3 linked regions of the Homo sapiens genome follow. The protein of the gene in region 2 purifies or fractionates together with the protein of the main gene of each other region. This does not show direct contact. Each region holds a gene or a part of one and is shown on either strand. Other genes may lie near its edges. The genes, in order: PPM1A, HAO2 and UBAP2.

Evidence for each region.
Region 1: the proteins of HAO2 (region 2) and PPM1A purify together in Homo sapiens (affinity purification with mass spectrometry; 2 studies listed by BioGRID and IntAct, with this or other methods). This does not show direct contact.
Region 3: the proteins of HAO2 (region 2) and UBAP2 purify together in Homo sapiens (affinity purification with mass spectrometry; 2 studies listed by BioGRID and IntAct, with this or other methods). This does not show direct contact.

Annotation. Positions count from the first base shown.
Region 1 is NC_000014.9:60,280,144-60,283,797, reverse strand, and holds part of PPM1A (protein phosphatase 1A), read right to left. Parts: intron 1,115-3,654; coding exon of another isoform or gene 1,095-1,114; coding exon 261-1,094; intron 1-260. UniProt on the Homo sapiens protein: Enzyme with a broad specificity. Negatively regulates TGF-beta signaling through dephosphorylating SMAD2 and SMAD3, resulting in their dissociation from SMAD4, nuclear export of the SMADs and termination of the TGF-beta-mediated signaling.
Region 2 is NC_000001.11:119,375,134-119,378,787, reverse strand, and holds part of HAO2 (2-Hydroxyacid oxidase 2), read right to left. Parts: intron 1-3,654. UniProt on the Homo sapiens protein: Oxidase that catalyzes the oxidation of medium and long chain hydroxyacids such as 2-hydroxyhexadecanoate and 2-hydroxyoctanoate, to the correspondong 2-oxoacids.
Region 3 is NC_000009.12:34,042,239-34,045,892, forward strand, and holds part of UBAP2 (ubiquitin-associated protein 2), read right to left. Parts: intron 1-3,654. UniProt on the Homo sapiens protein: Recruits the ubiquitination machinery to RNA polymerase II for polyubiquitination, removal and degradation, when the transcription-coupled nucleotide excision repair (TC-NER) machinery fails to resolve DNA damage. May promote the degradation of ANXA2.

The sequences.
Region 1 (3,654 bases), on a different chromosome or scaffold from region 2:
TACCTTTGATAATCTTCCACATTATTACAAAGCTCAAGTAGTAAGACTAAACATTCAGCTTATAACTCTTGCAGAGATGGTAATTGGGTAATTTATTTCTACATAGTGGTCCTATGATATATTTTCATAATTGGTGAACAGTATCCTACAGTTGTGCCAAAAACTGGTTTCAGAATTACAGATTCTAAGATGATTAAATACTAGAGTAGTGATTAATATGGCATAAAATCATTTTATGTTTTTAAAAAAAGTCTAGCTACCTTATACAAACAGGTGTCGACTACTTCATTGCAAACTTTCTCAAGGTCATCAGTGACTTCAAGTCTGGATCTTACAAAATCACAGAGCTCTTCATTTCCCATAACATCCCAGATACCATCACATGCAAGGATAATGAACTGATCATCTTCTTCAGATCTTTCAATATCATGGACTTCAGGCTCTGGTGAGACAAGCTGCTCAGTAGGACCTTTTCCATGGACACATTTGTAATCAAAATCCCCAAGGGCCCTCGATACAGCCAGAGAGCCATTCACACGCTGAATCATTACAGAGCCACCTGCATTCTGAATTCGTTCTTTCTCCAGCGGATTACTTGGTTTGTGATCTTGTGTGAAGAAATGAACTTTCCTGTTCCTACAAAGTAAACCTCTTGAGTCTCCACAGTTAATGAAATAAGTATGTTGGGGAGAAATTAAGACACCTACAGCTGTTGACCCACTTCTATCTGCACCATGTTTCTTCTCTGACATAACTCTCATGTGTTCATCAATCTCCAGAAAACCTGTTCTGATTCCATTCTTTACATTTTCCACAGAAGGTGCTCCTGCAGACCCTTTAAAATCCTGGTTATTGGTGATGTGATCTAACAAATGCTCACAGCAGTATTTGGCAACCTGAGAACCAGCATGCCCATCATACACAGCAAAGAATGACCACGATTCAAGTCCACTTGGCAAACCGATCACAGCCGTATGTGCATCCTCCATTTCAACACGCCAGCCTTGCATGCTGCTTAGCCCATATCGCAACCCATTACCCTGCCCCTGGGCATTATGCTTTTCCATCTTTGGCTTGTCTAAAAATGCTCCCATTATGTCTTGATCCTCTAGGTCTGCAAAGGAAGAGAAACAGGAAAGTCAATAACTGTCTTATAAACAAAATATGTACCAAACAATCTTTTTAATAAGTGAAAGAGATATGCGGGAATTCACAACTCGCGATAAGCAGACATTCATTGTGTTGCTGACTTGGAATCTGGAGATTAACAAGGAGGAACTGGGGGAAAGCCTGATGAAGCACAGATCACAACAGACAAAAAGGCAGAAAAAAACTAAAGCATTGGGATAAAGGGGAGAAGGCAGAAAGGAGACCTGGCAGTGGCCATCAACTTAAACCAACCAGGCTAAATGTTTAATGATACAATGAACATGTGTAAGCTCAGGACTAAGTTGTATGTATATCAATTAAGAAAAGCCAAACGAATTCATGACATACCCAAAAAATCTACTAACTCAAATATATCTTGGTTGAACATTCAGGAATTTTCAAGCTTGATTCCAAACTCCCTAGTTTTATTCCCACTGCATGAACTCTGAAAAACTAAAAAATAATCTACTCACAATGCTCCAAATTTGCATGCTCCTTCAAGCCTTTGCTCATGTCAGTTTCCTTAACTGGAAACTCTTGCCTCATCCTATTTATAGAAAAAAGTATACCTATCCTTTTAAGTCTACCTTACATTCTACCTTTTCCATGAGGTTTTTCAGTTTTTGATAAAGTCAGTTAAGTTATTAAATTACTGTAAATGTTGTAGCCTCAAATTTCAAGTTGCAAGCAATTATATATATACATAACGAAGTGTACTGTATACATATATAACAAAATTACTACTAGTAATCTATTAATCATATAGTAATAACATGTACCATTATTATTATACTCTATGACCATTAGGTATATAAAGAAGATCAAAGGGTCTAGTGACAGCCCTGCTGACAAGCCTGAAGGCTCAGCTAATCTAATCCTTTTCCAATACTCAAAAGTTAACACCCGCTGGTCTAGAATGGGCCCACACAAGGCAAAGAGACAGCTGGTTAGAATTTACCTTGGCCCTTACTTGAACAATAGCTTAGAAATGTAGACACCTGGGTTCAAGTAATCAAGTAAGTCACAACTGAACTAAAGGCAATCCAAAAGAAGGATAGCATGATGAACAGAGATTTAATGGAGGTGAAGAGGAGTTAGGTAGTAGGGAATAATGGTGGAGAAAAGTATCTAGGTAAATCACTACGCAGCTCTGAAACTAGGGTATTGATGATGCTAATGATACTCAGCTCAGAGAGGAAACTGGGAGAAAAAGGGCAAGAAGAAAATCCTCCTAGGAAGGAAAGAAAAACATTTGTTTTCCCCTTCATTTTCCTTATAGGTCCAAACTGATACATAGGCAGAAAAGACTGGCTGATTGGCGTGATAAAACCATCTGCCTACTCCTCTGCCTCCTAGTACAGTTCAACTAACGAAAGGTAAGTAATGAAAACTAGCTATCATCCATCCCTTATGGTGATATTTATCAGATTATTTTTCTGACATCAAGTTGATACACACTGCAAAGGTGAGTATTTTGATTGGATAAAGGATAACGTAATAATGACACCTTATTAGCAGGCAATGTTTAAGAAGTATTCTAAGTCCCTCTGGTAAGTGTTTTACAAGCATTACTTCATTTAATCTCTTCAACAACTCTCTAAGGTAGATAATAATATTATCTCCAATTTATAGATGAAGAACCTTAGCCAAGATTAAAGAACTTGGCCAAGATCACTCAACTAATAAGTTTAAAGGAATCAGGGCTCTGATTCAAGTCTGCGTGACTCTAAAGCATCATTAACCCCTAAGAAAATGGGTCTCTACCATGGCTGTGCAACAGAATTATCTGTGGACTTTTTGAAAAATAAATATTTCCAAATCAGAATTTCCAGGGTAGGGTTGGAACCTAGGTATCTATGATTTTTAAATTTTCATATGTGATTCTGAGGCACAGTAAGGTTGCAAACTGCTGGAAAAGATTAGATGGAATGCCTAAGGCAGAAGATGGGGGCACATTAAGGGCCAACAAGAAATAATCAACCAAAATTGCAGTAACCAAGACCACTATCCTAGGTTACAAGACCACTATCCTAGACTAGAAACAACAAGGTGAAGTTTTACAGAGGAAAGACTCCACTACCTTGAGAAAAGGAAAGAAAAAAAGAGACGTGAGTGAAACTCAAAAAATTAAACACATTTAAGAGACAAACCAACAGAAAAGAATAGTAATGACAAACTTCCTTCCTCTACGAATTCACCAATAGCATGAAGTACTAAAGAAAATAAGTTATGAAATTAGACCAATGTGGGTTTAAATTCTGGCTCTACTACTTAGTAATAGTGTGACTACTGAACCTTTCCGAATCTCTTTCTCCATCTGTTCCTGTATAAGCATATAAGAAGGCAGCCAGGTGTGGTGGCTCACGCCTGTAATCCCAGCACTTTAGGAGGCCGAGGTGGGTGGATCATGAGGTCAGGAGTTCTAGACCAGCCTGGCCAATATGGTGAAACCCCGTCTCTACTAAAAATACAAAAATTAGCCAGGCATGGTGGCGCATGCCCGTA
Region 2 (3,654 bases):
TATCCTATACATTACACACTCATAGAAAGGCTGTTCTACACAATTCTAGCATATAAATGCCACAAACATTATGTCTAATCCAGAAGAAATGGCTCATGCTCACTCAGAGTCATGTGTCTAGAATAGTGTCAGTTATGTGATTTGAAAGCTGCTTGGACATAAAGAATCAACCCTAGCATCTTATATATAACAAACACTATTTTATCTCATTTCGATACCTCTTCTAATTTTTCCTTAGACTCTTTTCTATCTACAGCTTTTTCTCAGTGTCCCTGTGAAGAAGACAGAGAAGGTATTAGTCTTCCTACTTTGCATTTAAAGAGACTGAGGCCTCAGAAATAAAATAACTTGTGAAAGATCAGTGATATGGTTTGGCTGTTTCCCCACCCAAATATCTTCTTGAATTATAGCTCCTATAATCCCCACATGTCATGGGAGGGGCCTGGTGGGAGGTAATTGAATCATGGGGCTGGATTTTCCAGTGCTGTTCTTGTGAGAGTGAATGAGTCTCATGAGATCTGATGGGTTTATTTATTTATTTATTTTGAGATGGAGTCTCACTCTGTCGCCCAGGCTGGAGTGCAGTTGGTTCTGGACTCATGTGTTCTGGTAGCTTCTAAAGATAGACATTCTCTATTTTCAATTTAACGTAAAGAACAAAATAGTTGGTTCTCATAAATTGCTTGCTATATTTAAGAGAATTTTCTAGGTTTAAAAATACAATTATGCATTTTTTTCTTTTTATAATGTATGTAAAGCTTAGCATGATCTCAGCTCACTGTAACTTCTGTCTCCCCAGTTCAAGCAATTCTTCTGCCTCAGCCTCCTGAGTAGCTGGAATTACAGGCATGTGCCACCACACCCAGCTCATTTTTGTATTTTTAGTAGAAACGGGGTTTCACCATGTTGGCCAGGCTGGTCTCAAACTCCTGACCTCAGGTGATCCACCCACCTTGGCCTCCCAAAGTGCTGGGATTACAGCCATGAGCCACCATGCCTGGCCGAGCTGATGGTTTTATAAAGGGCAGTTCCCTGCATGTGCTCTCTTACCTGCTGCCATTTAAAACATGCCTTTGCTCCTCCTTCACCTTTCACCATGATTGTGAGGCCTCCCCAACCATGTGGAACTGGAAGTCCATTAAGCCTGTTTTTCTTTATAAATTATCTAGTCTGAAGTATTTCTTTTACAGTATGAAAATGGACTAATACAGTAAATTGGTACCTGGTAGTGGGACGCTGCTATAAAGATACCCGAAAATGTGGAAGTGACTTTGGAACTGAATAATAGGCAGAGGTTGGAACAGTTTGGAGGGCTTAGAAGAAGACAGGAAGATGTGGGAAAGTTTGGAACTTCCTAGAGACATCTTGAATGGCTTTGACTAAAATTTTGATAGTAATATGGACAATGAAGTCCAGGCTGAGGTGGTCTCAGATGGAGATGAGGAACTTGTTGGCAACTAGAATGAAGGTGACTCTTGCTATGTTTTAGTAAGGAGACTGGCAGTATTTTGCCCCTCCCTTAGAGATCTGTGGAACTTTGAACTTGAGAAAGATGATTTAGAGTATCTGGCAGAAGAAATTTCTAAGCAGCAAAGCATTCAAGAGGTGACTTGGGGGCTGTTAACAGCATTCAGTTTTATGTATTCAAAAATATATGGTTTAAAATTGAAACTTATTTTTAAAAGGGGAGCAGAGCATAATAAAAGTCTGGAAAATTTGCAGCCTGATGATGTGATGATAGAAAAGAAAAACCAATTTTCTGAGGAGAAATTCAAGCTGGCTGCAGAAATTTGCATATGTAACGAGGAGCCAAATGTTAATTGCCAAGACAATGGGGAAAATGATTCCAGGGCATATCAGACATCTTCTCTGCAGACCCTCCCATCATAGGACTGTAGGCCTAAGATGCAGGGCACCAGGGCCTTGCTGCTTTGTGCAGTCTCAGGACTGGTTGCCCTGTGTTCCAGCCATGGCTAAAAGGGGCCAAAGTACAGCTCAGATTGTAGCTTCAGAGGGTGCAAGCCTCAAAGCTTGGCAGCTTCCACATGGTGTTGGGCATGTGGATGTGCAGAAGATAAGAACTGAGATTTGGGAAGTTCTGCCTAGATTTCAGAGGATGTATAGAAACACTTGGATGTCCAGGCAGAAATCTGCTTAAAGGGGCAGAGCCCTAATGGAGAACCTCTGCTAGGACAGTGCAGCAGGAAAATGTAGGGTTGGAGCCTTCACACAGAGTCCCCACTGGGGCACTGCCTAGTGGAGCTGTGAGAAGAGGGCCATCATCCTCCAGACTCCAGAATGGTAGATCCACTGACAGCTTGCACTGTGCACGTGGAAAAGCCACAGACACTCAACATTAGCCTGTGGAAGCAGCCAGAAGAGAGGCTGTACCCTGAAAAGCCACAGAGGCAGAGCTGCCCAAGACCATGGGAACCCACCTCTTGCATCAGTGTGACCTGGATGTGAGATATGGAGTCAAAAAGATCATTTTGGAGCTTTAAGATTTGACTGCTCTGCTGGATTTTAGACTTGCATGGGGCCGTAGCACCTTTGATTTGTCTAATTTCTCCCATTTGGAATGGCGGTATTTACCCAATGCCTGTATCCCCATTGTATCTAGGAAGTAACTAACTTGCTTTTGATTTTACAGGCTCATAGGTAGAAGGGACTTGCCTTGTCTCAGATGAGACTTTGGACTGTGAATTTTTGAGTTAATGCTGAAATTAGTTATGACTTTGAGGAACTGTTGGGAAGGCATGATTGGTTTTGAAATGTGAGGACATGAGATTTGTGAGGGGCCAGGAGTGGAGTGATATGGTTTGGCTGTGTCCCCAACCAAACCTCATCTTGAATTTTAGCTCCCATAATCCCCACATGTCATAGGAGGGTCCTGGTGGGAGGTAATTGAATCATGGGGGAGCGGGTTTCACCATGCTGTTCTCATGATAGTGAAAAAGTCTCATGAGATCCGATGGTCTTATAAAGGGCAGTTCCCCTGCACACACTCTCTTGCCTGCCACCATGTAAGACTTGCCTTTGCTCCTCCTTTGCCTTCTGCCATAATTGTGAGGCCCCTTCAGCTATGTGGAACTGGGAGTCCATTAAACCTTTTTTTCTTTATAAGTTACCCAGTCTCAGGTATTTCTTCATAGCACTATGAAAATGGACTAATACAATCAGGTAGTAAGTTATTATGAGAGATGGTTCTGAACTCATGTGTCCTGGTAGCTTCTAAAGATAGACATTCTCATTTTCAATTTCAGGTAAAGAACACAATAGTTGGTTCTCATAAATGACTTGCCATATTGAACTCGAGATAATTTTGTAGGTTGAAAAATACAATTATATATTTTTAATATAATATATGTAAATCTTAGTAGTCTATTATTTTGGTTAGAGGTTTAATATAAGGTTTATAATTAAAGAAAAGGATACCTTCCTTGTTCAAAGCTTTTCCTAAATTTGGAAGTGAAGAACTTAGCACAATATATTTGTATATACTTTCTTTCAATTTGATCCCTACCAGCCTTGAAGCCACCAGAAATTAAAGGGAAGATTCAAGTAATCTAATGGTTTTCTTGTATTCCCACTTTATTTTGTCTTCTTGTATTCCCATTTTATTTTGTCTCCATTTCAATGTTTTTTCTTTTTTCC
Region 3 (3,654 bases), on a different chromosome or scaffold from region 2:
GGAGCTCAGGTGGGCGGATCATGAGGTCAGGAGTTTGAGACCAGCCTGGCCAACACAGTGAAACCCCATCTCTACCAAAAATACAAAAAATTAGCCAGGCGTGGTGGCGGGCACCTATAATCCGAGCTACTCGGGAGATGGAGGCTGGAGATTCGCTTGAACTTGGGAGGTGGAGGTTGCAGTGAGCTGAGATCGGGCCACTACACTTCAGCCCAGGCGATAGTGCAAGACTCCGTCTCAAAAAAAAAAAAAAAAAAAGGAACAGTAGAACCTGCAGAGTGACTCATACCTATAATCCCAGGACTCTGGGAGGCCAAGCAGGAGGATCACTTGAGTCCAGGAGTTCAAGACCACCCTGGGCAACATAGCTAGACCTTGTCTCTATTTTAAAACAACAACACAAAGGAATAGTAAACCTATAATGTAGGGTAATGGTTACCTCAAGGAAAGCGAAAAGAAATGCCTTGGGAGCTGGCATACACAGGAGACTTCCAGGTAGCAGTAATGTCCTATTTCTTGGTTGTTCATTTTACTTTTTTTTTTTAATTTTACATATGGGGCCAGGCATTAAGCTCACACCTGTAATCTCAGCACTTTAGTAGGCCAAGGCAGGAGGATCACTTTAGCCTAAGAGACCAGCCTGGGCAACATAGCAAGACTCCTCTCTACAAAAAGAAAAATTAGCTGAGCATGGTGATGCATCCCTGTGGTCCAAGCTACTCAGGAGGCTGAGGTGGGAGGATGCCTTAATCCTGGGAGATAGAGGCTGCAGTGAGCCATGATCATGCCAAGACACTCCATCCTGGGCGACAAAGCAAGACCCTGTCTCCAAAAAAAACAACTCTACATATGTGTTTACCCCCAACCACCTTCTACGTTATACAATGACAACTCTACATGTTTTTATGCCTCATATATCATCTACGGTATGTATGCTGTTTTTTGGGTTTTTCTTCTGAGACAGGGTCTGTCACCCAGGCTGAAGTGCAGTGGCACAATCACAGCCCACTGCAGTCTCAACCACCCAGGCTTAAGCAATCCTCCAACCTCAGCCTCCTGAGTAGCTGGGACTACAAGCACACCATGCCCAGCTAATTTTTGTATTTTTAGTAAAGACAGGGTTTTGCCACGTTGTCTAAGCTGCTCTCCAACTCCTGGGCTCAAGTGATTCACCTGCCTCGGCCTCCCAAAGTGCTGGGATTACAGGCATGAGCCACCACACCCAAACTATGCTGTATTTTTCAATAAAAATCAGCAAGTATGCAAAGTATGATCCTATTATTTATGGAGATAGGGTCTCACTCTGTCACCCAAGCTGGAGTGCAATGGCACAATCATAGCTCACTGTGGCCTCAAGCAATCCTCCCACCTCAGCCTCACAAGTAGATGGGACTCTGGGTACATGCAATCATGCCCAGTTAATTTTTACATTTTTTTTATAGAGACAGGGTCTCACTATATTGCCCACGCTGGTCTCGAACTCCTGCTCAAGAAATCCTTCCACCTCAGCCTCCCAAAGCGTTGGAATTACACGCAGGAGCCATGGAGCCAGGCTCCAACTTTTTTTTTTTTTAAACATATACTCCATGTTTCAGGGGGAAAAAAAAGGCCAGGCACAGTGGTCCACAACTGTAATCTCAGCACTTTGGGAGGCCGAAGCAGGTGGATCACCTGAGGTCAGGAGTTCAAAACCAGCATGGCCAAAATGACAAAATCCTGTCTCTACAAAAAATACGAAAATTATCAGAGCACGGTGGCAGGCTAATCGCTTGAACCCAGTAGGCGGAGATTGCAGTGAACAGAGATCACACCACTGCACTCTGGCCTGGGTGACAGAATGAAACTCCACCTCAAAAAAAAAAAAAAAAAAAAAAATTAGCCGGGCGCGGTGACTCACGCCTGTAATCCCAGCACTTTGGGAGGCCGAGGCGGGCAGATCACACACGAGGTCAGGAGATCAAGACCATCCTGGCTAACACGGTGAAACCTTGTCTCTACTAAAAATACAAAAAATTAGCCAGGCTTGACAGCACACGCCTGTAGTCCCAGCTACTCGGGAGGCTGAGGCAGGAGAATGGCGTGAACCTGGGAGGCGGAGTTTGCAGTGAGCCGAGATAGCGCCACTGCACTCCAGCCTGGGCAAGAGAGCAAGACTCTGTCTCGAAAAAAAAAAAAAATTAGCTGGGCGTGGTGATGCATGCCTGTAGTCCCAGCTGCTTGGGAAGTTGAGGCACAAGAATCACTTAAGCCAGGGAGGCAGAGGTTACAGTGAGCCAAGGCACCACAGCACTCCAGCCTGGGCGACAGAGAAAGACTGTCTCAAGAAAATAAAAATAAAAGAAGAAGCCAGGTGTGGTGGCTCACGCAAGTAATCCCAGCACTTTGGGAGGCCAAGGCAGGTGGATCACCTGAGGTCAGGAGTTCCAAGACCAATATGGCCAACATGGTGAAATCCCATCTCTACTAAAATTACAAAAATTAGCCAAGTGTGTTGGCAGGCGCCTGTAACCCCAGCTACTCAGGAGGCTGAGGCAGGAGCATCACTTGAACCCGGTGGGCAGAGGTTGCAGTGGGCGAAGATCGTACCACTGCACTCCAACCTGGGTGACAGAGCGAGACTCCATCTGTAAATAAATAAATAAATAAATGAAGAGTATTACCTAGTCTTAAATAAAACACCTACTCTACTCCTTAATGTGAGCCCTATTTCATACTTCAAATCCAAATAGTTAACTGGATTCCAATTCAATTATGCTATGTCCAGCATGAAAATTAGTTATCAAAAAATGGAAACTTATCAAACATTGTTTACAAACGGGTAAAAAAAGGCTGGGCGCCGTGGCTCACCCCTGTAATCCCAGCACTTTGGGAGGCCGAGGCGGGCGGATCACGAGGTTAGGAGATCAAGACCATCTGGCTAACACTGTGAAACCCCGTCTCTAATAAAAATACAAAAAATTAGCCGGGCGTGGCGGCAGGCGCCAGTAGTCCCAGGTACTCGGGAGGCTGAGGCAGGAAAATGGCATGAACCCAGAAGGCGGAGCTTGAAGTGAGCCGAGATTGCACCACTGCACTCCAATTTGGGCAACAGTGAGACTGTCTTCAAAAAAAAAAAAGGGTAGAAAAAAATAAAAATTAAAAAAAAAATTTTTTTTTGAGACGGAGTCTTGCTCCATCCAGGCTGGATGAAGTCCAATGGCACATGGCTCACAGCAACCTCCACCTCCCAGGTTCAAGCAATTCTACCGCCTCAGCCTCTGGAGCAGCTGGGACTACAGGCACGCGCCACCACACCAGGCTCATTTTTGTATTTTTAGTAGAGACGGGGTTTCACCATGTTGGTTAGGTTAGTCTCGAACTCCCGACCTCGTGACCCGCCCGCCTCCGCCTCCCAAAGTGCTGGGATTACAGACATGAGCCACAGTGCCCAGTCACAAAAGAAAATTTTTAAGGAGCATCTTTGAGAAACTTAAAAAATGTCAAGTAAACTCAGCAGGAAATATCAGCATAAGTGGTTTACATTAAAATTGTAAAAACTAATCTGATAAATTTGATTCTTTGAGTTAGTAAAAAAAGGATCCTATTCCTAAATACTTGATAGTTGGGGCAAAATTACTTCAAAATCTACCACAAAGATTACATGGTGATATTCCC